2 separate regions of the Homo sapiens genome follow, and region 1 is linked to region 2. The links come from fine-mapping of genetic effects on gene expression. A gene starts in region 2. The other region holds a variant in brackets. All regions are shown on one strand. Distances are from middle to middle. Region 1 holds the start of MYLK-AS2 (MYLK antisense RNA 2). Region 2 holds the start of MYLK (myosin light chain kinase).

Region 1 (16,080 bases), 190 kb after region 2:
TTCAGGGCCCTTGAAACCCGTGGGCAACGCCAAGCCTGCTGAGACCCTGAAGCCAATGGGCAACGCCAAGCCTGCCGAGACCCTGAAGCCCATGGGCAATGCCAAGCCTGATGAGAACCTGAAATCCGCTAGCAAAGAAGAACTCAAGAAAGACGTTAAGAATGATGTGAACTGCAAGAGAGGCCATGCAGGGACCACAGATAATGAAAAGAGATCAGAGAGCCAGGGGACAGCCCCAGCCTTCAAGCAGAAGCTGCAAGATGTTCATGTGGCAGAGGGCAAGAAGCTGCTGCTCCAGTGCCAGGTGTCTTCTGACCCCCCAGCCACCATCATCTGGACGCTGAACGGAAAGACCCTCAAGACCACCAAGTTCATCATCCTCTCCCAGGAAGGTAAATGAGCATGGGGGTTGGGGAAGAAGGGGCCTCTGTACCAGGGCCACTCCTAGCTCATGGAGCGTTGGTCTCGCTGACCCCTGTTAGCAGCCCATAGGTAGGCTGCTAACCTGGTTTAGCAGGTAGGAGGGCCTGCTGGGTAGGAGGGCCGCGTCCCTGTTTCCTGCTAACTCAAGGATAGGTCCCGGCTCAGGGGCCTTGGGTACATGCACCAAGGCTGGGGCTAAGGGCTGGGATCCTGGTCCTTGTGGCACATGCCCACATCTCGGCACCCATCTGGCAGAGCCCTCTCATGGCACCGCCACCTGTGGCTCCCCAGAGGAGACCTGAGCCTGAGTTAATTCCAAGCTCCGGCATGGAGAGGGCTCTGTCTACAGGCTTGGAGGTGGGGGACACAGAGGCTGGAGCCAGGGAGAAGCTCTGAGTAAAGAGCTGTTTAGAGAAGCATCTTAGGTTTGGGGAACGGTGTGCAGTGACCAGATGGCACGGAGCTCTGAGTTGGGGTCAACAATAACTTCAGTCTTGATAGCACTGTGGGTTTGAAGGGATCTGTCGGGAAACCCAAAATCCCAAAACAGCCCCTACAGCACACACTCACGGGCAGACAGAGCTACTCGCTTCCTAATTTGGATGAGACTTTTGTTTGCTGGTATTTCACATTCTTGGATGGTGGGGAGAGGAGGGGGGCCCCAAATCCTTCCATCTGTGTGGACTTTTGGGGTCTGGAGTTTTCAGAGGAGCCAGTTTATACTTGGAGAAGAGATGGGGGTGACACAGGAGTATTTTCTCTGGACCCTCAATTTGGTTTGAAGTGCTTTTGTAAATCCCAAGTCTGGGTGGGAGCTCTGAGGCCGGCCGACCTCCACACCCCATTCTGGCAGCCAGCGGAGGGATAGGTTGCCAGCACAGAACAGAGTCCTGCCTGAGCTGATGCTGGTGGCTCCAGACAGGGTAGGGTACAAAGAAGCTCCCAGGAAGTGACATTTCACCCTTGAGGGGCAGAGGGCAGCCACAGAAGAAGCCGGAGTGGACAGGTCCTGTCAAATCTGAGTCAGCTGAGGTGTCAGAGTGCTCTTCCTGTGGGCTGCTCCCCTCCCTGGCCCCTGGCAGCACCCTCCCCACTCCCTCCCTCACCTTTTATCGTGCCTGCCTTCCCCTCACAAGCAGAATGGAGCATTTGAAGATCACAGAATCCCTCTCAGCCCCCGGTAAGGGTCTGTCTTCCCTCTACATCTGGGACAGCACACCTGGAGCAGCTGAGTATATTGAATCTCAGCGCTGAAAGAGTGAAGGGGACACTGGCTGGCAGAGAGAAACATGTTATTTTCTGCTAATGTGTTGACGCAGTAACTTTTCCATGTGGATGTCCTCAGATTGGCAGGGTCCTCCAGAAGTCGTCTCCTCCATCCCCCACCTCTGCTGGCTCAGCCCCCCTCCCCTGAGGCATGGGGGATTATTGGGCTGGGGTGAGACTTCAGAGGAGCAGACGCCACAACCTGTCCTGCCGCCCCTGTGGGGCTCTCCCACTTGGAAAGTCCTTGGTAAAACTGATTGGAAACCCTGACTGGGAACATTTCCCAGGTCACCCTACGGTGATCTCTCCAGGCAGGATGCAGGGTGGCATCCACCATCCTCAGGACAAGGTTGGGGCTGTCCCCTGGCTCTCTGATCTCTTTTCATTATCTGTGGTCCCTGCATGGCCTCTCTTGCAGTTCGCATCATTCTTAATATCTTTCTTGAGTTCTTCTTTGCTAGTGGATTTCAGGTTCTCATCAGGCTTGGCGCTGCCCATGGGCTTCAGGGTCTCAGCAGGTTTGGCGTTGGGAGGTCTGTGGCTGCTCCAGCCTCAGGGAAACTGAGGTTAAGTCAGTTGGGGGCAGCTGTTCTTGGGCTTGCATGGGGTTTAAACCCAGAGCCATCAACAGCCACTTACAAACAATTCACTCAACTAAGCGATGTAAGGCAGACCCCAGGCCTGGTCTCAGAAACTCTTCTGAGCCATTAGCCACTGTCTTCTCGTGCCCTGAGTGCCTGCAGTATGTTTTCCCTGCTGGTCCCTTAGTGGTAAAGAGCCTAGAGATCCTAGCCACTCCAGCCTCCCTTCCCATGGAAACCGTCCCAGAGGGAACAGTTCAGATCCAGAGCAGCAGCAGAAGAAATGATCCAAGGAAGGCTGCACACGAAGGGGAGAGAGAGACCAGGAGAGGTGGAAAGGGATTCCAGAGAGAGCCCCAAATCAAACTGTAAGACATCTTCTAAATATTTTTAAATTGTGTTTAAAGAATAGCTGACATATGTTGAACACTATGTGTTAGACACTATCTTAGGCCTCTTACACTTTTCACCCATTTAATCCTCCCAACAATGACTGTACTGTCCACCTAACAGAGAAGTTAAGTACCTTGCCAAATGCAAGGTGCTGGGGGTAACAGAGCTGGGATTTGAACTCAGGTGGCTGAGTTCCCGTGCCTAGACCACCGTGCTATATGACCTCTTAGTTAATTCCTATTATTTTATCAGGGTACTGGTGGCAGCTGAGAATTTGTCTATCAACAGAAAACACTAATGACTATTTACTCCTCGATTTTGTTAAGAGTTGTCCAAAGGTTGAAACACTGATGGTGCCCCTAGCCTTGCCAGGTTTCTGGTATTTTCCCTGCAGTGGTGGAAGCAGACCTTGCAATGGGCCTGTCTTGCTTCAGTACAGGAGAGTGCGTTGTCTCAAAAAATCGGCCCCACCTTCTGTCCCTTCACTCGCCAAGACTTCAAGAGCCCAGTGTTTTGTTAAGGAAAAAACTTATCTTAAGGCTTCATCTATCAGTCACCATTTAAGCAGGTCCCTCCTCAGGCAGTAGGGCATTCTGAGAGGTGGAGGGAGTCTTTTCTCAATAGATGTGGAAGGAGAAGACACACTCACAGTGATAAAATTGTTACAGCCAAGTGCTGACAAGTGCTATGAGTGTGTCGGGAGGAGCTGCTGGAAGTGGGAAGAGAGGGAGCTGAGTGCTGGACTTTGATCTAAGCCCCGAAGACAGGCCAGAGGGGACGGGCTTCCAGGCGGGGGCCCCGCAGCAGCAGAGGCGTCCTGCTAACAGCTTGTTCTGGGCTGGAGAGGATGACATGGCCCCAGTTTCATCCTATATTCTGCCAAGGAATTCCAGTCTAAAGGCAGTAGGGAATCATGCAAGATTTTGGGATGAAGAACACTGTACATGAAGCTCAGTTTAGGGGTTTTGGTGGACTCTGTGCCCAAAAGACAAATACAGAGCCTACTGAAGAGGTCGAGAGGAAGATGGTGAGGCCTAGACTAGCGTAGTAGCCACAACCACAGTCAGGGAATGACCAGTTCAAGAAGCAAGGATAGAAGTAATGGCACCTGTTGCCTGGCTTGGAAGGGCAGGATGGGGGTGGGGGTAGGTAAAGAAGATGAAGGAATGGAAGACCACTAAGTGTGGGTGCCTGAGTGGCTGGGGTCTCAGTGGTCGTGTCAGTGGGAATAAGGAAGCCGGTGGTTGGAGGAGGCTTCTAGGGGAAGGTGAGGGAATGGCTCCGCTGGCCTCCCGTCCTGCATCCTTCACACTCAGCTCAGCACTGGCCCTGCCCCCGGCTTCCTGACTTGGAGCCCTTTTTGCTCCACTGCACTGATCCCCACCCTGTCAGCTCTGCTACAAACAAGATTCACTTCCTCCAGGATGCCTTCCTGTTGTCACCCACCTTTGGCCACGAGAGACTCTTGCACTGTCCCCTCCCCATCAACCTGTGTATCTGCGTGCACCAACTGCTAGTGGACGTGCTGTTTATAGGTTTCAGGGGACTTCTCTGATGTCTGTAGCTTAGATAGGGCTCATAGCCCACAGACCCCCACCCAAACAGGATTACATCACCCCATTTAGTTCACCCCCTTTCGTGCTGAGGAAAGCAGAAGAGGTTTGACAGCCATGGGCTAGAGTTCACCACTAGTTGATTTGTGGCAGGACACAGACACGTGGAGGTGTCCTTCCTCTTCCTGTACCCCTAGAGCTGCAGGGCTGATGGGATTCAGAGTTACCACCAACTGGGCCTGCCCTCTGCCCCCAAGTCTTTTCCTAGCCCTTCCGGGACCTGCCTCTGCTGAGGGGTGGTGGGAGGCCGATGGTCCCGTGAGCTGAGGGGAGCTCTGTGGTGGCCTGAGAAGAGCTTTATCTTTATGCTTTGTTTCCTGTCTCCAGGCCAGGCTCCTCCTCCTGGCAAAACACTTTTCCGAGTCTAACAATGAGGATTCATTTTTGTTGCTGTTGTGAATAGGTAATTCATTTTTAATTGCCTTCAGGGTAGAATTTTGCAAAGGCTTTTTAAAAACCCATGTAAGTTCATCCTACGAAAAATGGATTTATGCAGCATCTACTATGAGCAAGGCATTATTCTAATGCCCTTTGTTGTGTGCATAATCCACTCAAAGAACTCTGAATTTTCTTTTTTCAGAAACTATATATTATCTTTTTCAATAGTAAGTTATATTTAACTGTTTGTGACCTTTTCTTACATAGATCCTACCAGATCACCTGCTACAGAAATATGCCTTCATCCTTCTCAGAATGACAAATATGTTTTACTGTGACTGCATTCCAGGCTTAGGAAAAACAGTGGTGTTAGACAGGGTCACTGCCCTCTGAGAGCTGGTGTGGGAGACAGGCATGCAGGTCAGCAATGGCCTTGTGAGCCGTGCTTTGACATGGGTGAGCTCAGAGTTGGGAGCACAGAAGAGGTCCGCCTAGGCCTGGGGGATTAGGGGGAACAAGGAGGACACCATGCCTGCAGGGGTGACCTGGAGATGAGTCTTACTGTCTGGGCTTGCCAGGTGGGCTGGGTAGGCTGACTGAGGCAGCCCTATAGCAGAGCCTCCAGGAAGCTCCCTCCCTCCATCCACATCCCCTTCCTCCCCTCTGCCCCCAACTCAGAAAAGGAGAGAGCTGGGGGAGCTTCAGACCCAGGAGCGCTTACTCCACCACAGCCCTGAGGGGCTCTCCCAGGCGGAGCTCTGCAGTGATGCTGACCTCTCCCATCCCCCTCATCTCCCTCTCAGAATTCCCCACCAGGCTGAGGCTTCTCAAAAAAAAACCTCTGGGAAACAGCTTTTCTTCTAGAGGTCAAGAATGAACTGTCCCACAGGAAATACCAGATTCTTCATCTGGGGTAGCCAAGCCTGCAAGCCTGCTAGGGGGGCCTCCCCAAGCCCATGCACATGGCCAGGGGTCCAGGCTCTGGGCAGGTTGGAAAAGCTGCCTGCCCCATGCCTTGCCCTGGGAGAGGAGGCAGGGGCCGGGTCCACATGCCCCTCTACTCTCTGTGTACTGTCTTTGCAGCTTGTATCATTTTGACTTAAGACTCAAGGCAGCTGAGGGACTGAAACTGAAAGAAAATCAAGGATTTGAACAGGATGTGCGTTGGGGGTGGGATATCTGTTCCCAAAGCCTTAGCCCCACCCTGACTTGAGGGAAAATTTCCAGATGGGATTGGTCTCTGCTAAGCCTCTGAGCCCCTCTAGTTGGGGCCAGAGGTCATCTTGGCATCCTCCCGCCCACCCAGATGAATGGAAAGTTCTCTCTCCAGGACATGGTTATCCTCATTCCCCACTCCTGTGCCTCACGATTCTTACTCTTATGACAGACTTCCTAAAATTCCAGCCTAAATCCTCTCCATTACAGTTTCTACAAATTCTGACTCCTAACTACAAAGGGAAGAGAACAGAGTGAAGCCTTCCCGAGGTTTGGGGTCTGTATAAGGGTATAGGAAGTGGGGAGTGGGGTGCAGATCAGCCCTCTTGCCCCAGGTGGTTTATAGGATGAAGGTTTCTCTGTTTAAAACAGTACCCTGGTGGCAAGGAGTAAAGGGGAATATTACACCCTTCCTTCCTCTTCCAGCCTTAGTGAGGTTTTCTGGGCAGAACTGATATCCTTACTCTTTCTAATCTCCTTGTATTTGCTGGTCAAGGCTGTGCATTTGTGTAATGGGGGGCAGGGACAGTAGTTGGTGTCCACTCAGAATGCACCCAGCTCTTCCCTCCCAATGCCAGTGGCTTGTGGGACATGAGATGGGAGCTCCAGGCAGCAAAGTGCATGTGGCCCTGGCTCTGTCCTCCTGTGTGACGGTTGCTTCCCTGACAACAGGGGCAGCTTTGAGCAGGATGCCCTGCTATTTACTTGTTTGTGCATCTGAAAGCAAGAATAAGGAACTGCTGCCCTTCTGCCTGGCCCAGCAGGCCTCTTTCCACACCCTGAGGGAACCTCCCCAAGGGGTGGCCCAGAGGAGAAGTAACCAGTTCTGGGATGAGAGAGCTGGCAGGGGCCAGGACGAGACCCTAGATTCCTGTGTGTGCCTAGCTGACACCTCCTTCCCCAAACCAGGCCAGAAGATGGTGCTGGGAGTGAAGGCAGGCCCAGGGGAGAGTCCATGGAGAAGAAAGGCCATCCCCACTTCTCTCTGGGGCAACCAGAAGACCCAACTCCGAAGGGAGGCAGCCCCAGAGGGCCCCTCTGCAGGTCCAGTCCCCCTCATTGGCCGTGGTTCTCCAGCTCAGACACCTTTCCTAAAAAGTCAGCTCCTGGGTGTAGTCACCACCTCCCAACAGATCTTCCCACAGGCCGGTGCCCCTCCTGGACAAGGGCTCCTAGCCTCCTCCACCCACTTCTTTGCTCAAAGCTTCAAAGCTCCCTTTTCCAGAATGCAGTCACAGCATCACTGCTGTAAACAAAGTGGGACCTCCTCACCTGTCACTGTTCCTAACACAGGTCTGTAACCCTGTGTCGGACTCCTTTTCTCTCTTGGTGACGTCCAGGGGGCAGGGCCTGTGTGCATCTCCTTGTATTGTATTGGATGGTCTCCAAAGGCAGAGGCTATTTCTCTCCCTTCTTTTGCAGCTTTCTATTATGTCCCCACAAGAGGACTCTTTGGAGTGGGGGAGGAGGTATCAGGAAGGAACGTATTTAGGGATCAGTTATTTTGGACATGGGTTATAAGCAGAAAGTTCCCTGGCTTTGGTGAGGAGTGGGGGATTGGTTCCCACAAGGCCTCTGGCTTCTGGGCTCCCAGAGGCTGCCCGTGCGAGTAACACTCACCTGCTGCGCTCCAGATGCCAGGGCAGGTACTACGACCACACCTGGTTCACTCCACAATTCTTCCTCCCCAGGCTCACTCTGCTCCGTCTCCATCGAGAAGGCACTGCCTGAGGACAGAGGCTTATACAAGTGTGTAGCCAAGAATGACGCTGGCCAGGCGGAGTGCTCCTGCCAAGTCACCGTGGATGGTAGGTCGTGCCCACCCATCGCCGCCACCCATACACAGGGGTCCCATTTCTCAGCCCCTCCCTTCCTTACCATACCTTGCCTGTCAGACAGAACTGCCTCCAACACTGCCCTCCCTACCCAAAGGCATTCATTTTGGATGAATGAATATCTTTTGCCAAAAGAAAAAGAGACAGGAAGGAAAGTGGCAGCTCTACTTGATCACCTACATGGCTTCACCCCTCCCCTGGCTGTCCTGTCCCCCTCCCAGTCCTGATCCCCACACCCAGAACCTTCTGAGCTGGGAAGCTGGGGCACTGGGCAGTAGAAAAGACACACCCACAGGAAAATGACTACAGAGTATTTTACAAAAGCCACAACAAACAAGTGTCCGAGCTGGCAGGACGACCCAGCAGGGTCAGCCGTGAGGAGGAGGGAGCAGAGCGAGGTCCGTGTGGGAGACTTCCTAGAGGAGGTGAGTCGGGGCTGAGTCTCTGGA[C/T]AGAGAGGACAGGGCAGCCTCTGCCAAAACAAAATGGTAGTAGTAATAATAATACTGCAGAGGGAGGTGGGAGGACACATCGGGGAGAAAGCAGGCCTGCCAGGTCTTAGCGGAGTTTCTGTGTTAGGAAGAGGCAGTGCCAAGCTGCGAGGAACTGGGCTTTGTCCTAAGGAAATGCAGGAAGTGCATTCATGACTCTTTTTTCTCTCCTTCCTGGGGAGTATAGAATTGGAACCTGAGAAGTAGGATGAACCTCGTGATGATTTAGATGAACACCCTCATTTTACAGATAAGAAACTGAGGGCATCCAGAGAGGAAATGCATTTTGGAGGGGGGCTCTCTGGCCCATTTAGGGCCAAGCTGGGGCCAGAACCCCATCCCAGGACTCACAACCCAGGATCATTTCTTTGTATTTGGCACTTACCTGGAAATGTCTCAAAAGGTAGTTTTGGGGAAATAGTTTCTTGCCCTTGAAATGTCTGGTTAATAACCATCAGAGACACATCAAAAACTAGTGTCCAAATAAGGCATCTTGAAGCCCAGCTTGGTTGTTCTTCTCCCTCCTGTGTGTGATCAGTTGAGTTCTGAAGTCCTAGCCCGTCTCACTGCCATTCCACACCATGTAGAGCCCGTGTCCTCATTCTGGACTTTACAATTGGTTTCCTGATCACAGAGCTGAGCTCTATGGAACATGATGAATGGGAGAGAGGTGGAAAAGAAAGTCTTTTTTATAAAAACACAATGGCAGCACGAATTAATTGTTAATAGCCGAAAGGTAAGCTGAACTCATCTAATACTGTGTACTTCTCCTTGGAGATCGTGCGTATATGTGCTATAGGGGCTCTGAGTCTAAGGAAGCGGACTTGATGTGTCCAAGTTTATGCTCAATTCAGAGGGGGCATGGGACACATTTTGAGGTTCTGCACAGTGGATGCTGTGGCTGATGACTCCTGTGTGGGAGTCTCTCCTCACCCAGGCTGTCACCCACCCAGATCACAGTCCTGCTTCTTTCTATACAGGTGCTGCACTGTAAAGTATAGCGTTTCTGAAAACATGATCCTTGAAGCCCACGTCTAACACCCCTCTGCTCGTTTGGGACTCACACTGGTTCCCGAGCTAGTGAAGGAGGTTATCGGCTTTCGGAGCCTCTTTAGGTCCTGTTTACATGGCTAGCTGAAGGCAGGAGAGCAATTCATTCTCCCTATCTGTAAAATGTCAGCACCTTTTCTAGATTTGTTTTCAAGATGAAATTTCCTTTTCCCCTACTGAATACACTTGGGGATTTTTTTTTTAAGGTTTGGGGAATTCATTCTGCAACTTAAAAGGCTTTGTTTGCCCAGAGTCTGCTGGCAGATTCCCTTGTCCTCTCCACTAATCTTGATGACCATCATTATTTATCCCTAATTCCTTCAAATGCAGAGTTAGGCCTCCAGCTGCAAATTGGGAGCTGGGTCTTGGAAGAAGAGCTAGAAAAGTGATAGGAGGGAGCCCAGCTGAGATAACAGGACTGACTCTCAGTCCATTGGGTTTGGTTTTGTTGACAGAAAGGATAAGGGTGGCCTCTTCCCCCTGCTTTTCTTTCCCTGTTGCTATACTTACAGATATATTAGCATCCTGTTTGCCCACATTTAGCTTTATTTTTTCATCAAGAGCCTCTCTAGGAAAGTAGTAAAGGACTGTTGTCACTTTGACAGCTCCCCTGTCGCCTTTCTATCGTCTGGTGCTCCACCCCACTGGCTAGGCTACATCTCCTGCCCTCATTCTGTCCCCTCATCCCCTCAGCTCTCCCTACTCCCCAAGGCATCATACTTGACTTGGGGATCCCAGTGGGTTTGTGCCTCCCCTGAAATTACAGGCAAAATGTTGCATTATGTGGGTTGGAGCATCTTTCTGAAGAGAGGGGTCCATAGTTTTTAGTCAAATTCTCAAAAGGAGTCATGAATCAGAATACGTTGAAGAACTACTTGCCGTAAGCAGCAACAATGACTGAATTTTCAAGCCCAGCCATTGTGTGGGCTCTTCCAGCCTGTCTCCAGCTGCAACTGCCCACCCAACCTCTGCATAGAACCAGGCCTTCATCCCTCTTATGGGGCAATGAGGTCCATCTCCACTAGGCGATGGGACTACAGCTGGTGCTGACTTCAGACTGGCTTCCCCAGCCACTCAGCAGGGCTGGCCTGGCCCCTGAAAGTCGCTATCATTCACTCATCCTGTGCCAAACACCATCGAGACCATACATCTGAGGCCAACATATCTTTCAAAATCTCATAAAAATGAGGCAAATGGGGCTAAAATAGCATTACCCACACTACTGATTCCCTCATATCATAAAGATAAGGGATGTAACCTTTATAACACAGCACAGCTGGCTATTTTAATCATGTGTTTGGGTCTTTTTCCTAAGAAAAGGGGTGTTTATGAACTTGCTTGATTATGGTCATATCACCCTTCCTTCTGAACTCAGCAGAAGACAAGGGTTAACTTGTGCCACATAGAAGGGAGCTAAAACCTAGAGTAAACGTGGACTTGCCCGAAAACTCACCCAGGAGGAGAACAAGCTGACCTTCAATGCCTGTCCTGGCCAGAGACTCTTGTGCACTTTGCATTTTCAGTCTATGCAACAGTTGGGCAGGGTGTCTTTCTCAGTGAGCAAACTGAGGCTCACCAAGGGTCAGCTGCCTTCCAGGCCCCACAGACAGTAGGTGTAGATCTGGTGTTGGGGCTCCACCCTGCACAGTGAATTACAACATGAAATATCCTGGCAGGACTCAGTGGTCTGGCTCTGAAACCTGTTCCTTTCCACAGCCTGACACAGCCTCCCCGGGCAGTGAATTACCATGGTGGGGCCCGCTCCCAGAGTGATCCAGACCTCCCTGAGTAACAGTCCTCCCTGTGGGGAGGTCCTTCTGCACGTGGGACTCAGTAACCCCTTTCCTCTCATTCCAACCCAGATGAGCAGTGAGGAAACTAAGTCCTTCCTAGGCCAGAATCCCATGAGAGGACTCAAAAAACACCTTAGCCCCTCACTGGCTCATCCAGTCATTCTCAACTCAGGCCTCCTGTCCCCAGCCACCCTGGCCAGGGCATCCAGCTTTTGGTACCAGTGAGACCAGGGCTTTGTGACCACAGAGGGTCATGCATGATTGTGATGGGAAGGGACACTCCAGTGGGTACTCATGCCATCACTCAGTCATTCAACTAATATCTGAGTGCCCACTCTGTGCCAGGCACTGCCATAGGAGCTGGTTTTAAAACAGTAAATGAAGTAGGAAAAGTTCCAGCTTTTGGGACTTTTCTAGTGGGAAAGAGGCAGTAATGCAGGTGAACAGCTGTGTCATATCCTCAGGTAATGTCACCAGCTATGAAGAAAGCAAAGCAGGGTAATGGGGGAGAGAATACCATTTTTGGAGGGGGTGGTCACTGAGGCCCCTCTGAGGAAGGAACATTTGAACAGAGACTGAAGGAAGCAGGGAAGGAAGAGGGACAAGGTGACAACAAGAGCATAGCCCTGAGCTGAGGACACTGTGCTTAAGGCGTTTCAGGAGGCAGGAGGCCAGGGTGGTGGAGCCATGAGCAAGGGGCAGGATGGTAGGAAGTGAGGTTGAGGAGGACCGTGGACCAGATCCAGGCAGTGTTGGCTAGGACAAAAAAAATGAGATTTTATTCTAAGTGTTATGGGCCAACACTGGACATTTATGAAGGATCACTCATGTCCATGTGATGACCAGACCCAGGATGAGTCAGAGGGAAAGCAGGGAGCACAATGGGGGGTTGCCACAATAGGGACAGGAAGTGATCAGATTCATAACCTCTTTGGCTGTAGAGCTGATATGAGTTGCTGGTGAGCTGGGTATGGAGAGAGAGAGAAGTTAAAGATGACTCAGTTTTCATGGGGGAGTGAAGACCAATGGTGGGGCTGGGGGGCACGATCAAGAGTTTAGTGCATGTGAAGTTTAAGATTGCTATTTGACCTCTCAAGCGGTCCTGTCACATAGGCAGGTGTTTAGGTGAACCTGGAGTTGAGGGGGAGGTCAGAGTTGGAGGTGGGATACAGGGAGCCATCCACACACAGAGGCCATTCACTGCCCTGGGGTTGAATGAGGTCCCTGGAGAGTACAGAGGTGGCTATAAGAAGAGGGAGAGAGAGAGAGGCAGGGGCAGGACAGGGGCCTGCGAAGAAGACTAAGAAGGAAGTACTCCAGTGAGATGGGAAGAAACCCAGGAGATGGGGGTGTCCCAGAAACCAAATGCTAAGAACTTCAAAAAGGAAGGAATGATCAAGATTAGTGTGCCAGGCCAGGTGTGGTGGCTCACACCTGTAATACCAACACTTTGAGAAGCAGGTGAATTGCTTGAGCCAGGAGTTCAATATCAGCCTGGGCTACATGGTGAAACCCTGTCTCTACAAAAAATACAAAAGTTGCCTGGATGCTGTGGGGCATGCCTGTAGTCCCAGCTACTCAGGAGGATGAGCCAGGAGGACAGCTTGAGCATGGGAGGTTGAGGCTACAGTGAGCCAAGATTGTACCACGGTACTCCAGCCTGTGGGACAGAGGGAGACCCTGTCAAAAAAAAAGAAGAAAGGAAGAAAAGGAAGAAAGGGAAGGAAGGAAGGAGGGAAGGAAGGAAAGGAAGGAAGGAATGAAGGTAGGAAGGAAGGAAGGAAGGAAGAAAGGAAGGAAGGAAGGGTCAGGTGCTGCTGCCAAATAAAGATGAGCCTGAGCACTGGCTATTGGGTTTGCCAACATTGAGGTCATTGGTGACCTTGCAAGAGGGCTTCAGGGGAGTGATAGTAACAATAGCCTCATCTCAGGCAAACAGAGACTGAGTCACCTGCTCAAGGTCACCCTAACTAGCAGAGTGGGAAGTTAAACCCAAGCCTTGGTGCCTAACCACTGTGATCCACTGTTATCTTGGCCCCTGGGCACTTCTGATTATTGCTGAGCTGATTTTGATCCACCCCTCCTTTCTTGGCCTCAGCCCTGCCATATTACTAAGTCTGCTCCCACCCCCACATTTATTTATTTATTTATTTTGAGACAGAGTTTCACTCTTTTTGCCCAGGCTGGAGTGCAGTGGCATGATCTCGGCTCACTGCAACCTCTGTCTCCTGGATTCAAGCCATTCTGCTGCCTCAGCCTCCCAAGTAGCTGAGGTTACAGGCACCCGCCAACACGCCCAGCTAATTTTTGTATTTTTAGTAGAGAAGGGGTTTCACCATGTTGGCCAGTCTGGTCTCAAACTCCTGACCTCAGGTGATCCACCCGCCTCAGCCTCCCAAAGTGCTGGGATTACAGGCGTGAGCTACCGCGCCTGGCCCACATTTATTCTTTAAATCATCACAGACAACTAACGGGTATTATGTGAAACTAAATAAAATTGCTGTTTTTGTAGGTCAAAAACACTTCAATACTGGCGAATGGTGTAGTTCAACCTGATCTGAGCATACAAAGTACTTAGCACCGTGCATACATGGAGTCAATACCCAGTAAATGTCAGCCATCACCTTACGACTTGGCCACACCTCCCTCACTCTTCTATTGAGGTGATGTTATTTCGGTTTTCCTTGTGAGGAAGCTCAGACTCAGAAAAGTTCAGGAACTTGCCCAGGGACTCACAACTCCTAAGCAGCAGAGCCAGAAAGCGCAAGCATCCTGATCTCTCTTCCTTACTACGCTAGCACACTGCTTGCACTCAGTCAGAGAGAGAGGCCAGCAAGGAGGGATGAGCCAACCCAGGGAGAGGCTGGAGCCCAGCCCCTCTGCCCTGCCCCACTGGGGGCCCCTAGAAGCTGGACCCCTCCCAGAAGCTTCCCAAGACCTCATGCCCCCTGCGTGGGGTCAGAGTTCAGGGAACCAGCCTCTTGGGGGAGATTAAAAAAAAAAAAACGCTGCCCAGAGAGCTTGAGTCCAGAGCCCAGGAGTGGGAGGGGTGAGGCATTGTCTATATAAGGACACATTTTCCTCTCAATGTAGAGGCCCCCCACTTCCTCACACCTCCATCTTCCTCCCCCACACTTCTTTGGGGACACAAGCAAAGGACTTCAGCCTTGGGGGCCTAGATCTAGAAATGGAGTTTAATTTCATCACAAAATGATTAAAATAGAAAATACAAGCTGCTCTTAAACTTATATTACTATTATTTTTATCCCCTGGGCAGCCATGTGAGCACAAAGCTGGTTTTGATTAGGCACATGGCCCTTCGAGCCCACTCCTTGCTGCAGTTCGCATGGAGGTCTGCTGGCTCCGCATCCCTGGCAGGGCCCCGTGGTGCATGCACAGCCCCACCGTGCTGACACTTCAAGTGGAGCGCGGCCACCCCCTGGGGCTCCGAGTCTGGGGTGTGCCTAGTTTGAAAGGGGGACTTCAGCCCCTTTCCTCATGGCCAGATGGAAAGATAAAGTGCTGCAGAAACTTCTAAAAATAAGACTCAAAGCACATTACAGGGTAGTGTACTGACACGTCCAGTGAAAACCCAGCACCCTAGGGCCGAGGACGGAGGCAGAGGCAGATGGGGCAGGGCAGGGAGTGTTTTCTGAAGGTGGAAAATTTTAAAGCTGATTCAGAAGGAGGTAAGGGAATGTGGCTATCAAGAGGAATTAATTCATAAGTGATCATTTTCATTTTCTTTTTTTTTTTTTTTTTTTCATTTTTTGGAGACAGGGTCTCACTCTGTCATCCATGCTGGAGTTAAGTGGCATGATCACTGCAGCGGCACGATCATTGCAGCCTCAAGCTCTGTGGGCTCAGGTGATCCTCCCACCTCAGCCTCCAAAGCAGCTGGGACTACAAGCACATGCCACAGTGCCTGGCTAATTTTTGTAAATTTTGTAGAGACGGGGTTTCACCATGTTGCCCACGCTGGTCTTGAACTTCTGGGTCCAAGTGATCCAACTGCCTTGGCCTCCCAAAGTCCTGGGATTACAGGCGTGAGCCACCACGCTGGGCTGATAAATGATCATTTCCTGCTTTCCAAAACACCGTTGCATGTGTTCTCTCCTTTGGGCGTCAAAACACCATGAGGTAGAGAAAATAAGTGATTCCCTTGTACAGATGTGGAAACAGAGATGGGACAGTTTAAATTATTTGCCCAAGTTCCCAAGGTTGCTGATGACAAAGCCAAAGCTAGAGCTGTACTCTCTTGGCCTCTACTGTGGTGATGCTTGGAAGTAAAGCCCAACACAACCCCATGAGGACGAAAGGAGTCTCAGTACCTGCTGCCCTTCTTTCAGGAGCCCAGGAAAACTGGGCCTCTCATACTTTGCTTTCTTGTGCCTCAGCTTACTCATCAGTTAAAAAAGCAAACCTGATCCTTCTTCTTCTCCCTCCTCTATGCTCCAAGACTCACCAGGAGAATGAGTGCTGAAGCCAAGGAGTGCAGAACTGCATACATAGTCTGCCCTGTACTCCTCTTCCTTAAGAAGGGCCGGGTGCCGTGGCTCACGCCAGTAATCCCAGTACTTTGGGAGGCTGACGCAGGCAGATCACCTGAGGCCAGGAATTCAAGACCAGCCTGGCCAACATGGCGAAACCCCATCTCTACTGAAAATACGAAAAATTAGTCAGGCGTGTACTCAGGAGGCTACTCAGGAGGCTGAGGCATGAGAATCACTTGAACCTGGGAGGCAGAGGTTGCAGTGAGCCGAGATCATGTCACTGCAGTCCAGCCTGGGTGACAGAGTGAGATTCCATTTCAAAAAAAAAAAGGGGCCAAACAAAACAATTACTGGGTACACCTTTCTTTACATTGTCATTGGTGACTGTTAGAAATGCTGGTCTTCAAGGAAGGGAAGAAGGGAGAGGCCCGGACAAGGGAAGCTTAGACTGACTCCATGCCCCTGGTTTATGGCACCCTCATCCCCAGATATCAAGGGGAGGCTCTGCTAGGTTTTTCTGCCTCTTGGAATAGTCCTGGAGCCACTCCCTGC
Region 2 (16,080 bases):
CATAGACAGATGGGAGATCCAGACTTGCAGAATAAACTTTTTGCAAAGGTAGTAAAAATAAATGGGCACCCCCTCCCCACCAAGCCAAGGAAAATTTTCTACAACTAATGTCACTTTGGGGCAGTGGGGGCTAACTTACATTGTTTCAAGAGGCCTAAGGAAACAGACAATTTCTCACTGAAGGAAATTTATTTTGTCTTGACACACCAGACATTATAATGTGCTAGGTTTGTGTGTTTGGACATGGTCTTCTTCAGGTATTTGTGCAGATCCTCTTTGTCTCTAGTCACTAGCCAGAGTTTAGGGGAACTGGTACAATCTAGCCCCCATTAACTCTTGAAACTGACCAGCTCAGGCTCCTTTTTAGAACGAGACTCCAAACTAAGGAGAAATTTTTAGAAGTGGAATAAAATGTACATAATAGGAAATGATACAAACCAACTTACAAAAATCAGTTATATTTAAGTATGTTAGCAATAAATAATCTGAAAAAGAAATTAAGAAAACAATTCAATTTTCAATAGCATCAAAAAGGATAAAATACTTAGGAATAAATTTAACCAAGGAGGTGAAAGACTTGTACAGTGAAAACTTATTGCTAAAAAGAAATTAAAGAAGACATAAATAAATGAAAGACATTCTGTGTTTATGCATTGGAAGACAATAGTGTTATGATGACAGTATTACCCAAAGTGATCTACAGATTCAATGCAATCCCTATTAAAATCCCAATGTTATTGCAGAAATAAAAGGAACCCATTCTAAAACCCATATGGAACCTCAGAGAGCCCCCAATAGCTAAAACAATCTTGAAAAAGAACAACAAAATTGAAGGTTTCATACTTCCTGATTTCAAAACTTACTACAAAGCTACAGTAATCAAAACAGTGTGGTACTGGCATAAGCACAGACATATGGGCCAATGGAATGGAGAGTCTAGAAATAAACCCTTGCATTATATGGTCAGCCTATTTTCAACGAGGTTTGAAATCAATGGGTAAACAACAGTCTTTTCAACAAATGGTGGTGGAAAACTGGATATCCACATGCAGAAGAATAAAGTTGGACCCTTACCTTATACCATGTACAAACATTAACTCAAGATGGATGAAAGACCTAAATTTAAGAGCTAAACTGTAAAACTCTTAGAAGAAAACATAGGGAAAATTTTTATGAAATATTGGATTTAGCAATAGTTTCTTTGGTATGACATCAATAACATAGACAACAAAGCAACCTACAGAATGAGAGAAAATATTTGCTAATCATATATCTAGAAAAGGATTAATAGTCAGAATATGTAAAGAACCCTGCAATTTAATAACAAAACAACCCAATTTTAAAATGGGAAAAGGAATTCGATAGACGTTTCTCCAAAGAAGATACTCAAAAACAATGCTCCACAATTTTAGTCATTAGGGTAATGCAAATCAAAATTACAATGGACTACCACTTTATACCTGCTAAGTTTATTACTATCAAAAAATAGAAAATAATATATATTAATGAGAATATGGAAAAACTGGAACCCTTGTGCATTGCTGGTGAGAATGTAAAATGGTACAGCCATCGAAACAGTTCGGTGGTTTCTCAAAAAAGTTAAAAAAAATAGACATATGACTCAGTAATTTCATTCCTAAGTATGTTTTATTTTTAAAAGAATTGAAAATGGTCATTCAAACAATACTCATATGCCAATATTCATATTATGCATTATTCATAATAGCCAAAATGTAAAAACAACCCAAATGTCCATTAACAGAAGAATGGATAAACAAAATAATGCTAGATATGAATATTACTCAGCTATAAAAAAATGAAGTTTTGATATATTCTACCTGGATAAACCTTGAAAACATTACACTGAATGAAATAAGACAGACACAAAAGGATAAATATTATATGATTACACTTATATGGGGTATCTAGAATAGGCAAAATGATAGAGACAGAAAGTAGAATAAAGGTTACCAGGTGTTGGAGGGAAGAGGAAATGGGAGATGTTGCTTAATGTGTACAAAGTTTCTGTTTGGGATTATGACAAAAGTCTGGAAATAGATAGTTACACAATATGGTGAATGTACTTAATGCTACTAAATTGTATACTTTAAAAATGGTTAAAATTGGCAGGGCACGGTGGCTCATGCCTGTAATACCAGGTCTTTGGGAGGCCAAGGTGGGTGGATCACAAGGTCAGGTGATTGAGACCATCCTGAGTAATGTGGTGAAACCCCATCTCTACTAAAAATACAAAAAATTAGCTAGGTGTTGTGGCACGCACCTATAGTCCCAGGTACTTGGGAGGCTGAGGCAGGAGAATCACTTGAAACTGGGAGGCAGAGGTTACAATGAGCCGAGATGACACCATTGCACTCCAGCCTGGGCAACAGAGCAAGACTCCGTCTCAAAAAAAAAATGGTTAAAATTATAAATTTTGGGTTATGTATATTTTGCTACAATAAAAAAGTGAAAAAATTAACATGACAGGGAAGAGTTGTGAAATGGTTTGAATTTGTGTCCCCACCCAAATCTCATGTCGAATTGGAGGAGGGGGCTGGTGGAAGGTGATTGGATCATGGGGGTGGATTTCCCCTGTGCTGTTCTTGTGAAAGTTTAGAAAATTTGCAGCCTGACCATACGGTAGTAAAGAAAAACCCATTTTCTGGACAGAAAGTCAAGCTGGCTGCAGAAATTTGCATGAGTGGAGCCAAATATTAATATTGAAGACAATGGAGAAAATGTCTCCAGGGCAGTTCAGAGACCTTCACTGTAGCCCCTCCTATCACAGGCCTGGAGGCCTAGGAGGGAAAAATGTTTCATGGGCCAGGCCTAGGGCCTGGCTGCTCTGTGCAGCCTCAGGACATGGCACCCTGAGTCCCAGCTGCTCCAGCTTCAGCTGTGACTAAAAGGGGCCAAGATACAGCTCAGACAATTGCTTCAGAGGGTGCAACCCACAAGCCTTGGCAGCTTCCATGTTGTGTTGGGCCTGGGGGTGCACAGAAGGCAAGAGTTGAGTTTTTGGGAACTGATATGGTTTGGCTCTGTGTCCTCACCCAAATCTCATCTTATAGCTTCCATAATTCTCATGTGTTGTGGGAGGGACCCAGTGGGAGATGATTGAATCATGGGGGCGGGTCTTTCCTGTGCTTTTCTCAAGATAGTTAGTGGGTCTCACGAGACCTGATGGTTTTAAAAATGGGAGTTTCCCTGCACAAGCTCTCTCTTTGCCTGCGGCCATCCATGTAAGATGTGACTTGCTCCTCCTTGCCTTCCATCATGATTGTGAGGCCTCCCCAGCCATGAGTAACTGTAAGTCCATTAAACCTCTCTTTCTTCCCAGTCTTGGGTATGTCTTTATTAGCATATTAGCATTGTGAAAATGGACTAATACAGTAAATTGGTAACAGCAGAGTGGGGTGCTGCTGAAAAGATACCTGAAAATGTGGAAGCAACTTTGGAACTGGGTAACAGGCAGAGGTTGGAACAGTTTGGAGGGCTCAGAAGAAGACAGGAAAATGTGGGAAAGTTTGGAACTCCCTAGAAACTTGTTGAATGGCTTTGACAAAAATGCTGATAATAACATGGACAATGAAATCCGGGCTGAGGTGGTCTCAGATGGAGATGAGGAACTTGTTGGGAACTGGAGCAAATGTGACTCTTGTTATGTTTTAGCAAAGAGACTGACAGCATTTTACCACTGCCCTAGAGATTTGTGGAACTTTGAACTTGAGATAGATGATTTAGGGTATCTGGCAGAAGAAATTTCTAAACAGCAAAGCATTCAAGAGGTGACTTAGGTGCTGTTAAAGGCATTCAGTTTTATAAGGGAGGCAGAGCATAAAAGTTCAGAAAATTTGCAGCCTGATAATGCAATAGAAGAGAAAATCCCATTTTCTGAGGAGAAATTCAAGCCTGCTGCAGAAATTTGCATAAGTAACAGGAGCCAAATGTTAATCCCCATGACAATGGGGAAAATGTCTCCAGGCCATGTCAGAGACCTTTGTGGCAGCCCCTCCCATCACAGGCCAGGAGGCCTAGGAGGAAAACGTGGTTTCATGGACCAGGCCCAGGATCCCTGTGCTGTGTGCAGCCTGGGGATTAGGTGCCCTGTGTCCCAGCTGTTCCAGCTGGCTAAAAGGGGCCAATATAGAGCTTGGGCTGTGGCTTCAGAGGGTGCAAGCCCCAAGCCTTGGCAGCTTCCACATGGTGTTGAGCCTGCAGGTACACAGAAGTAAAAAATTTAGGTTTGGAAACCTCCACTTAGATTTCAGAGGAAGTATGGAAATGCCTGGATGCCCAGGTGGAAGTTTGCTACAGGGGCAGGGAAGTCATGGAGAACCTCTGCTAGGGCAGTGTGGGAGGGAAATGTGAGGTCAGAGCCCCGACACAGAGTCCCTACTAGGGTACTGCCTAGTGGAGCTGTGAGAAGAGGGCCACTGTCCTCCAGACCCCAGAATGGTAGATCCACTGACAGCTTGCACCATTCGCCTGGAAAACCACAGACACTCAATGCCAGCCCATGAAAGCAGCCAAGAGGGAGGCTACATCCTGCAAAGCCACAGGGGCAGAGCTGCCCAAGACCATGAGAACCCACCTCTCACATCAGTGTGACCTGGTTGTGAGACATGGAGTCAAAGGAGGTCATTTTGGAGCTTTAAGATTTGACTGCCCTGCTGGATTTCGGACTTGCATGGGGCCTATAGTCCCTTTATTTTGGCCAAATTCTCCCATTTAGAATGGCCATATTTACCCAATGCCTGTACTTTCATTGTATCTAGGAAGTAACTAACTTGCTTTTGATTTTACAGGTTTATAGGTGGAAGGGACTTGCCTTGTCTCAGATGAGACTTTGGACTGTGGACTTTTGAGTTAATGCTGAAATGATTTAAGATTTTGGCGGGCTATTGGGAAGGCATGATTGGTTTTGAAATGTGAGGACATGAAATTTGGGAGATGCCGGGGCAGAATAATATGGTTTGGCTCTGTGTCCCCACCCAAATCTCATCTTGTAGCTCCCATAATTCCCATGTGTTGTGGGAGGGACCTGGTGGGAGATGATTGAGTCATGGGGATGGGTCCTTCCTGTGCTGTTCTCATGATAGTGAATGGGTCTCACAAGATCTGATGGTTTTAAAAATGGGAGTTTCTCTGCACAAGCCCTCCCTCTGCCTGCTGCCATTCATGTAAGATGTGACTTGCTCTGCCTTGACTTCCACCATGATTGTGAGGCCTCCCCAGCCATATGAAATTGTAAGTCCATTAAACTTCTTTTTCTTCCCAGTCTCACGTATATCTTTATCAACAGCTTGAAAATGGACTAATTCATGAACCTCCACCTAGATTTCAGAGGATGTATGGAAATGCCTGGGTGTCCAGGCAGAAGTCTGCTGCAGGGGCAGAGGCCTTATGGAGAACCTCCACTAGGTTTGTGTGGAGGGGAAATGTGGAGTTGGAGCCCCCACACAGAGTCCCCACTGTGGCACTGCCTAGTGGAGCTGTGAGAAGCAGGCCACCATCCTTCAGACCCCAGAATGGTAGATCCACCAACAGTTTGCACCATGCACCTGGAAAAGCTGCAGGCACTCAATGCCAGCCTGTGAAAGTAGCCACAGGGGCTATACCCTGCAGACCCACTGGGGTGGAGCTGCCCAAGGACTTGGAAGAGCATCCTTGCATCAGCATGCCCTGGATGTGAGACATGAATTCAAAAGAGATTATTTTAGAGCTTTAAGATTTAATGACTTCCCTGCTGAGTTTTGGATTTGCATGAGGCCTGTAGCCCCTTTGTTTTGGTCAATTTCTCCCTTTTTTTTATTTGAGATTGTGTCTCCCTCTGTTGCCCAGACAGGAGTGCAGTATCACGATCTTGGCTCACTGCAGCCTCTACCTCCTCAGTGCAAGCAATCCTCCTGCCTCAGCCTCCAAGTAGCTGGGATTACAGGCACGTGCCACCACACTTGGCTAATTTTAAAAATATTTTTAGTAGAGACAGGGTTTCACCATGTTGCCCAGGCTGGTCTTGAACTCCTGACCTCAAGTAATCCACCTGCCTTGGCCTCCCAAATTGTTGGGATTTCAGGTGTGAGCCACTGCACCTGGCTGCAATTTCTCCCTTTTGGAATGGTAGCATTTACCCAATGCCTATATCCCCCTTGCATCTTGGAAGTAACTAAGTTGTTTTTGATTTTACAGGTTCATAGGCAGAAGGGATTTATTTGTCTCAGATGAGACTTTAGACTGTGGATTTTTGAGTTAATGTTGAAATGAGTTAAGATTGGGAGACTATTGAGAAGGGATAATTATATTTTGCAATGTGAGCAGGACATGAAATTTGAGAGGGGTTGGGGTGGAATTATATGATTTGGATTTGTGTCCCCACCCAAATCTCATGTTGAATTGGAGGAGGGGCCTGGTGAGAAGTGATTAAATCATGGATCATGGGGGTGGATTTCCCCCTTGCTGTTCTCATGATAATAAGTGAGTTCTCACAAGATCTGATGGTTTAAAAGTGTATGGCACTTCCCCCTGCATTCTCTCTTTCTCCTGCCACTATATGAAGAAAGCACTTGGTTCCCCTTCACCTTCTGCTATGATTGTAAGTTTCCTGAGGCTCCCTAGTCATCCTTCCTGTTAAGCCTGAGGAACTGTCAGTCAATTAAATCTCTTTTCTTCATAAATTACCCAGTTTCAGGTAGCTCTTTATAGCAGTGTGAAAACTGACTAATGCAAGTTGAAAGAAAAAGAAGAGCCAGATAAAAGTGAGTGAGGGAAACAGAGCCAGGAAATCTTAGAAGTCCAGCCACCATATATATTTTTTGACACTACTCAGAAACAACAAACGGGAAAGCTTTGTGAAGTTTGAAAAACTGTCTGGACCAAATCTCCTTTTAAAAGTTCAAGAAAACAAAATTCATGTAAAAATGATCAACAAAAAAAATACTAAGGTCAACTCTCATATAGCTACTACAACAAAGTGAATAAAGATCATAATAACCTCCAGAAAGATATTCTCAAAAAAATTAAAGCTATAATGTCCTAGAAAAGCTAATACACACTGAGTGACATGAAACATGAAAGAACAACATACATCAGAATTAGAGAAACTCAGAAATTAGAACAGAACTCACAGAAGAATTAAACGTTTTATTTTTTATTTTTTTTTGGAATTAAACATTTTAAAAAGCATTTGAGAAATAAAGATTGACCTATAAGGAACACAAGAACACATAAATATAACTAATAAAAACTTAAAAGAAAATAAGGTAAAAAGGAGGGAAATTTATAAACTTAAAAACAAATGAAGAAAGAAATTAAAAAGATTTAAGGGAAAGTGACAAATGTTGAAGATAGACAAAAAAGGTTCAATATGCAGATAATAGAAGTCTCCAGAGAAGCAGTCTAAAGCAATCCAAAACAGAACAAATATTTAAGACTTTAATTGAAGAAAATTTTCCTGAAATTAACAAAATATATGTATTTGAAACCACATTTTGAAAGAAATACACACTGTTTACTTTCAAACTAGAATGACCAACAAACATTCTAATAAAATTACTGGATTTGAAAGAAAAAGATAAAGTTATTTGGGCATCTAGGCAAAGTGAGAAGGTGCCGTCTACAAACCAGAAAGAGGGCTCTCAACAGATACTGAATCTGTTGGAGCCTTGATCTTGGACTTCCCAGCCCCCAGAACTATAAGAAATAATGTTTCTTGTTTATAAGCCACTTATTTTGTGTTTTTTTTTTTTGTTGTTGTTGTTATAGCAACCCAGCTGGACCAAGACACCAAGTAGTTTGAATCCAACAAAATTGACCTTCAAGTAAAATGGCATGAACAAACTGTAAGCAACATGCAAGAACTCAGAGCATATTCTTTCCATGAGCCCTTCCTAAGGAATCTAGTAGAGGACAAGCTTTCAGACAACCAAAATGACTAAAGATACATAAACATAAGGAACTAATGGTAAGCATTAAATATATATTTGAACTTTAATTAGGATTAGAATTGTAGAACTGTAAAATTAAGACTAAATTAGGGTTAAATAGGAAGATTATGGTATAGATGGCTATAGAAGCTGATAATTTAGATAGAGTATAACTATAAAAGATGGATAGCATATGCAAAAAAAACTGTTTTCAAGAATCAAAACTGATGATGGTAGTATTAATATTGTTATTCTGAGATTATTATTATATGTTTAATGCAAACTAAAGCAAATTAGTAAATTGGGATATTCTAATTTCATCCTCCCTTTTGTCCTTGAGAACCAGAATTCTCTACATGAAAGAAAAGAGGTCCTAATGTAATATATGTTAAGTAAAAACTACAGTCCTGAAATTAAATTGGAAATAATATAAACTGATGAAAATATTATGAAGAATAATATTTCTCTAGAATATAAAAAAATGAAGTATTCTTTAGTAGCTCTGTCTATTGAAAAGGCCTAGAAACAGTTACCAACCTAGTAACAATGAATACTCCTAGTGCTCATATTGTTATCTTAAAATTTCAACAAAAGAAACTAGAGCTTCTGGCCAGGCGGGGTGGCTCATGCCTGTAATCCCAGCACTTTGGGAGGCCGAGGTGGGCAGATCACGAGGTCAAGAGATTGAGACTATCCTGGCCAACATGATGAAACCCCGTCTCTACTAAAAATACAAAAATTAGCTGGGTGTGGTGGCACGTGCCTATAATCCCACCTATTCAGGAGGCTGAGGCAGGAGAATCCCTTGAACCAGGGATGTGGAGGTTGCAGTGAGCCGAGATCGTGCCACTGCACTCTAGCCTGGTGACAGAGTGAGACTCCATCTGAAAGAAAAGAAAGAAAGAAAGAAGGAAAGAAGGAAAGAAGGAAAGAAAGAAAGAAAAAAAGAAAGAAAAAGAGAGAGAGAAGGAAGGAAGGAAAGAAAAAACAAAAAAACTAGAGCTTCTTGGAGAAATGGCTGATTCCAGGTTTGAGGCAGCAAATGTACAGATGTGCCTGGAACATCTTGTCATATCAGATAGCAAGGAAGCTATCAAAGACTTCTAGGGTCTTTGAAGCTCTTTGCACACTAGTGAGAGAGAGAGAGAGAGAAAAAAAAAAAGACTACTAGAATCTTATCAAAAGGAGCCAGGAGCCATATTGAAGAAGCTCCTACTGGCCAAAGATGGGACAATTTGAGCTCTAATATCGTAGATGGAAACCTATCAAATATATTTAAATTCATGAATTTATAATGATATTAAAGAAATCTAAGAATGACAGAGAATCAATTCCTTAACTTGAAAACTGGGTAATTTTTTTAAAAAAAAGCAGGTATTCATCGTGCCTTTCCTATCTCAGGGTAATCAAATAGTAGATGAGAGGAAGCATCTCCTTATCCACTTATGAACTAATAAATGAAAACAAAATTATTAGAATACCATGATTTTGCAAACTTCAATTAATTAATGAATCTAGGAATTGAGCATCGACGGCTGTTAACCTCAAAAAAGAGCAAACACCAGACATCATGATCATGTACCTCTTGAAGAAAAGAACACACAACCATCTATAATCTTACAAAAGACATCAAACTTCAGTCTGAGGAAGACCCTGGATCAGCTGCCAACTTGCTGTCAATACAGAGGACAGAGAAACATGCTGAATTGCCTCATGAATGTGCAACCCCCAGACTCTGGAAAACCTCACAGATCAAGGGCTTAAGTTATTTAACAAATAATTGTAAGGAAAAGACTGAAAAGGCAAATCAAATTAAAAAAAAAAAGAGTGGGGGGAGGGGTAAGGTGCACCCTTGGAAGATACCAAGAAAAACAAAAGCAGCAGAAGTGACTACATGAAAGTCAGGTTAGTGGTTACTTTTGGGAGGAGGGAGAAAGGGGGTTGTCATTGAGGTAGGGCACATGGAGAGGCTCCTGGGGTGGCTGGCAGAGTTCTATTTCTTGATCCAGGTGGTGATTACAAGGATGTTCCCTTTATAATAATTCACTAGTCTATATATCTATATATTTGTTTTTTGTGGTTTTCTGTATTTATGTTTTATTTTACAATTAAAAAATTTTTAAAAACACTCCTTAACCTGCAGTAAACAGTTTTTTTAAAAAAAACAAAAGAAGGTCCAAGTGAAGAGATCAGAAGCTATAAAATATTTCATATTGGGTGCAAACTAAATATAAAGCAAGCCAAAACCAGAAACACCTCCTCCCCCTCCCCTCCCCCCCCTCCCCTTTCCCCTTTTTTAATTTAAAGAACTTTGTAGGTATCTTCCAAACCAATGAGAGATTCTTAACACACACAAAGGGAGGATGTCAGAGGAACCATGGGGCTGAGTTGCACCACTGGAGGATGTCTGAAAAAAACTACATAGACAACCTTCCAGCACTAAAACTTTAGCCCCATGGTTCCGCTGACATCTTCATTTTACAGATTAGAAAACTGAGGCCCAGAGGCAGCCAGTGTCTCATGCACGCTCACGAAGCTAGCATCAGACCCCGACCTAAGGCCTAGGTCTCCCAGTGTAGGACTAAGACACGCACCAAGACAGTACCAGCCCGCTGACCGCCGCCTGCGAGGAGTTAACTGGGGCGGTGCAGGATAAGTGCGAGGGGGGCCCGGGTCTGGCGCTAGGTTTGGCTGCGGATTCTCCGCTCCGGACTCCGAGGCAGAAGGCGGGTGGGCGTGGCGGGAAGGGCAGCAGGTCCACTCCCCGAGCGCTATGCAAATGTCATGCAAATCAGTGCATGGGGGCTGGAGCGGGTGGTTTGAGTCCTGACCCCGTAGCGCCGCGCTCTCACTCGCTCTCCTCAGCGCGCGTCCGCTCTCCGCTCTCCCACTTGCTCTCTCTCTCGCCGGTTCGCTCACCCCCGCCCCGCCCCGCCCCGCCCCGCCCTGCCCAGTCCCGGACGCGCCTCGCGGGCTCCCCGCGCCGCCCGGTCGGCAGCAGGGCGCTGAGCGAGCTCGGAGCCCGCGCTGTGCGCCTGCGGCCGGGGCGCCCCGCCGAGCGCCGGTGCCCCGGCTCCCGGGCCGCCTTCGCCGCGCGGGTGAGTGAGCCCGCCCCATGCTTTTGTCCAGGCGCGGGCCCTGGAAGTCAAGGCTCCGAGGGTGGGAGTTCTGGGTGGGGGCTGGGACCCCCACCGTCTGTGCCTCCCGACTCCCCTAATGGAGAGGGGCCCCGGGGTGCGGCGAGGAGTCAGGGGCGTAAGGAGACGACCCCAGTGACGCCAGGCTGCACGAGTTTTCTTTTGGGGAGATGAAGTGCTTGGGGACACTGATGCGATTGCCTTTCTAGGAATCATCCGAAGGGGGTGCCTTTGATTTGAGGGGCGGAGGAGAAGCGGACCCTTCTCCCAGCTCCCAGACCCTCGCTAGAGGACTCGGTGACGGCCTCTGGGAAGGGGGTGCCACGTGAAGGTCCTTCCAGCCCAAATGTGATTCCGGGAAGGTAGGGCGGGGAAGGCGGCCCGCGAGTGCCAGACCTGGCCATCCCAGGCGAAGCTGGGGCGCGGGCTTTGCAGACTTGTTCCTACTCCATACTCCTCATTTAAGCTCCTTACCTCGCTCTGCCTCCTTCGCGTTAACTGGGGTCCCATTGTTGAGGGACCTTGTTCGCCGATGATTGCAGTTGGAAAGTTTTGGATAAACTTCTCAGGAGATGTGAGTTGTCAATGGTTGAGGTAGACCCCTCCCTGGAACTTATGGAACTAAAACCCTTCAAGACCCAAAGGACTGAATTTCTAGGAGTGGCATTGCAGATGTGAAGATGGGCTGATGGGGAAATGGTTTCAAGGATATATATTTTTTTTAGATTGGGGTGTGTGTGTTGGGGTGCGGGGCACTTTCTATTTCGTAGCCAGAAGGAGAAGACCCAGCTCTACTAGAGTCTAGAGGGAGTAAAATTAGCTGTTGTGATTCAGGGAGCTGGGTGGGTGTAGGGAAACACCTGGGCAGTGGGCATGATGCCAGACCTCAGGCCGTTGGTTTTTACCATCCCTCCTCTCCCCAAGTGCAAAGACCAGAGTATATGCAATGACCCGCCCACCCCACAGCCTTTGAGAGCCTGCCCTGGAGCTGCATCCCCCTTCCAAGAGAGGCTGTGTTCTTCTCCACCTGAATGGAATACTTTTTGTCAAAATGCACTTATCAATAAATTATTTCCAGATGGTGGGCTTAGGAGGACCATTTGGGGAACCCCGCCCACACTTCAAAGAATCAGGAATCAACAATGCAAGTCTCTGGGAGAAGTGTAGGTGCATCTGGTGACTTTACTAGGTTCCTACAAGGCATTTAGGGTTCTAATAGAACTGTTTTCTTTTCTCTTAAATTCTTGACCTCCTTCTCTCTTCCGTGATTCTCTTAGTCTCTTCCCCGCCTGCACACTGTGGGACTGTGGAGGATGATGCTGCTGGCACCACAGTGCTCTAGGGCAGCATGGAATTTTCCTTCCTGCCCAGAGTGAGGTTACCCCTTTTTCTCCCACTCTCAGTGGGCCAGGAGCCTTGGGTCTGGGAGGAACCTGAGCAGTTGGTCCTGGGTCCGGAGTGGTTGGACTCTGGATGCTGGATTGGGTAGCGGGTACTCTGGGGACATGCACAAGAGCTTTTTTTGCCAAGATGTGCAGGTCTGTCTCATTGTTCACTGATGATACAAAGGATGCTGGACCTCATTTGCAGCTAAGCATGAGCTTGGAGAACCACCCCACAGTGGGGAAGCATTTATGCTGGTTTATCTCCCATGTTCAGTTTCTTTTGTGTAATAACTGGCTAGCTGAGGAGGAGGGTAGCTGCAGCATTGTAGATGTTTCCTTGTCTTATTTTTATTTTTATTTTTTATTTTGAGACAGGGTCTGGCTCTGTTGCCCAGGCTGGAGTACAGTGGCGTGATCTCAGCTCACTGCAACCTTGACCTACCAGGCTCAAGGAATCCTCCACCTCAGCCTCCTGAGTAGCAGGGACTACAGGTGTGTGCCACCACACCTGGCTAGTTTTTTGGATTTTTTGTAGAGATGGGGTCCTACCATGTTGTCCATACTAGTCTAATGGGCTCAAGTGATCGCCCACCTCTGCCTCCCAAAGTGCTGGGTTACAGGCATGAGCCACTGCACCCAGCCAGAGTAGTTGCTGTTTGTGTGAGGTTTGCTCACCCCTTCATCAGGGGCTGCTTCCCCAGGGGCCAGATCTTAGAAAACATATGCAGAGCAGACTAGGCCTTGGAACATTCCTAGGCTAACTGGTAAGGCCAGGTGGCCCCACCTGCTGCCTGAAAATGGTAGACAGACAGCTACAGTCACTGCAGAGGAGGGGCTCCTGGCTGGCAGGTGGCGGGGGTAATCTGCTGAGAAGGCTTGTCAGAGAAGGAGGTGACCCAGATGGTGCAGAGGGGAGAGGCCTTTGAGTTCCAAGGGTGGGGAAAGGTTCTGGGTCTCTGGCTAGGGAGATCTTTGCTGGTCTCAGAGGCATAGATTGTGAATGCGCTGGGGTCACCATATACTCAGTGTCTTTGAGAATGACCCCTTGCTTTTATCCTCAAAATATAAGATGAGCCTAGAGTTTGAAACACAACTAGTTGGCTTGTCTGTCTTTTAGGAAGTTCATAAGGTGGGGTGGGGGTTTCAGAATGCAGCCTTGCTTGGGGACATGGGTACAGTGTCCCATGAGTATGGGGTGTCTTATTTAGTATCTTTCTGAGAACAATACTTGGGAGTCTGGAAATATAAGCCTACTTGGAAGCCCAGCTGCACCTCTCACAGCTCAAACCAACCCACACAGGCTGGGAGATTGTTCATTCTTAAAAGCTTCCTGTCCTGTCTTTTCAGCAAATGTAGTAAAATTTAGAAACAACACTTAAAAAGTATCCTTTCCCAACAAAAGACAATGTCCTCGCTCAACTTGGCCAGCAGAGGGTGCATGCAGAGGACATGAGGCAGGGCCATTTGCATGGAAAATGTCCATGTGGATGCTTAGGCCTGAGCAGGGTCTATTGGGTGGCCTGAGTGCTCAGAATCAAGGAACCGTCCAGCAGTGAGCCAGAGTGGGACAGAACGATGTCACTGTGATGAGCTCCTATGCCATGTGACTTCTATCTCTTCCCTGTGCTCCCCCAGCCTCCTACCTTACAAGCAGGCAGACATGGTTGTGCGGGGAAGCAGTGCCCATACAAGCCACGCCCCTCTCCCACCTGCACCATTCTGCAGATGGATTCTCTTTATTCTTCCTTGAGTTTTGGCTGCACACTTTTCCATTCGTTTGATGCCAACAGGTTGAGCAAATGCATTCCCCTCACAAACTCAAGGTGGGTGGACCTCCGTATTTGCACTGCGGGCCAACAGGTGCATCCCTCCTCCTTGTTGCATGCACCTGGTGTGTGAGGGCTGCAGCCCCCATGAAATTTACTGACAGCCAGCCCAGTCAGCTGGGGCAGGAGGAGAGCCAGCAACAGTTGCTGCCTCATGGGCTGGAAGGTAAGGCTGTGTTTCCAGATGCTCCCACCACCTTCTTTTCCCTGCCCTCCTGCTCACTGTACTTCAGTGTCTGAGGGTGAATGGGCACCCCACTAGGGAGCTGTGGAAATTTTTGTGTAGATCCAGCTTCTTAGATTTCCCACGTTGTCCCCATCCCCCCTCTGTTGGTACTTCCTTGCCCCCCTTCCACCCTCTGCTCCTCTCCTTCCCTGGGTCTTCAGTGCAGAGCCCTCTGGAGACAGAAAGCCCCTTTGGAGACAAAAGAAAAGGGATGAGGAGAGGATTTCCTTTTCTTTCAGACCTGCTTCTTGATTTTTTTTCCCTTGGCTCTGGGCGCTCAGATCTGATGCTAATTTGTTAATCCAGGACCTTATGGGTTATTTCTCATAATCTTTGGGGGAACCGAACACCTGCAACTTGGGGCTTTTATAGTTGAGGATGCTGTTTACCTTTCTTGTTTTCAGAGATGAGGATTTCTGATGTATAGTAGGTCTCATTCAGGTTTCTGGCAGGAGGAGGCAGCCAGGCAGAATGTGATCTTTGGTGTTAAACTTGGGTTCAGTTCCATCCCATTCACTTACTGGCTGGGTGTTCTTGGGCATGGGTTTTAACCTCTGTGAGCTGACTTGAGTTTTGTCATCTGACAATGAGGGCGGTTATAAAAATTAAATGAATATAGGAATATAAATAGGCACAAAACAAAGAATAGCTTTTATTATATATACCGGGCAGTGTTCTCCAGGTCTATATAATGACTTGTAAATCAACCAGCAGACACTAATGATGTCTACTTTCTATTGAGCTCTGTAGAGGCTTATAAAACAAAGGTAAATGTGGGCCAGGCACGGTGGCTCACGCCTGTAATCCCAGCACTTTGGGAGGCCAAGGCAGGTGGATCACAAGGTGAGGAGATTGAGACCATCCTGGCTAACGCGGTGAAACCCCGTCTCTACTAAAAATACAAAAAATTAGCCAGGTGTGGTGGCGGGCGTCTGTAGTCCCAGCTACTCGGCTGTAGTCCCAGCAACTCGGGAGGCTGAGGCAGGAGAATGGCATGAACCCAGGAGGCGGAGCTTGCAGTGAGCCAAGATGGCGCCACTGCACTCCAGCCCAGGCGACAGTGTGAGACCCCGTCTCAAGAAACAAACAAACAACAACAACAAAAAACAAAGGTAATGTGTCTATGCTAAGAGACTCTGGGTGGGTAGCAAGAGAGCTAACACATAGGTAATTAGAAAACAGGGACAACATGCAATTTCCAAGTTTCATTAACAGAATTAAAGGATGACAAGAAATTCAGGGGCTAGAGTGATGCAGGAAGGCCTCAAAAATGGAGAGGAGGAAGGGAGGGTAAGCATTTGCCAGGAGAGAGGAAGGCAGGAACATTTGGCTCCGGTGTCTGAAGGCTGTTAGCTCCTTCCTTGCTGGGCCCTGGCACAACACCTTTGACCTTGCAGCGCACTCCCAAACATGCAGGTGTGCTTGTCCTGAGGTTTATTTTGGGGGTGGTTTTCATTCTGGCCTTGTTTTCCCTCTGCTGCCAATAATATTTCTGAAACATCTGAAATTGTTTTATTTTATACTCGATCAAAAATATTAAGAGGCAATTGGGTGGCCAGAGTGAAAGCCCAGAGGCCCGTA

Evidence for each region. PIP is the estimated chance that this variant, and not a neighbour inherited with it, causes the effect.
Region 1: its variant is the best candidate, but not a certain one, in a credible set for the expression of MYLK in whole blood (INTERVAL, PIP 0.79).

Annotation. Positions count from the first base shown.
Region 1 is chr3:123,684,332-123,700,411 of GRCh38, reverse strand. It overlaps MYLK (myosin light chain kinase), which reads left to right. Exons shown (of 34, transcript NM_053025.4): 18 at 1-392; 19 at 7,561-7,677. MYLK-AS2 (MYLK antisense RNA 2) reads right to left here and starts at 10,768. Exons shown (of 3, transcript NR_046629.1): 1 at 10,696-10,768; 2 at 8,578-8,835; 3 at 8,005-8,173. LOC105369194 (a long non-coding RNA gene) reads right to left here and starts at 7,596. Exons shown (of 3, transcript XR_924417.4): 1 at 7,490-7,596. The variant C/T (reference allele first, on the strand shown) is at 8,154.
Region 2 is chr3:123,879,149-123,895,228 of GRCh38, reverse strand. MYLK (myosin light chain kinase) reads left to right here and starts at 10,897. Exons shown (of 34, transcript NM_053025.4): 1 at 10,897-11,023. It also overlaps a transcript of CCDC14 not described here. RefSeq lists a silencer at 10,858-11,017.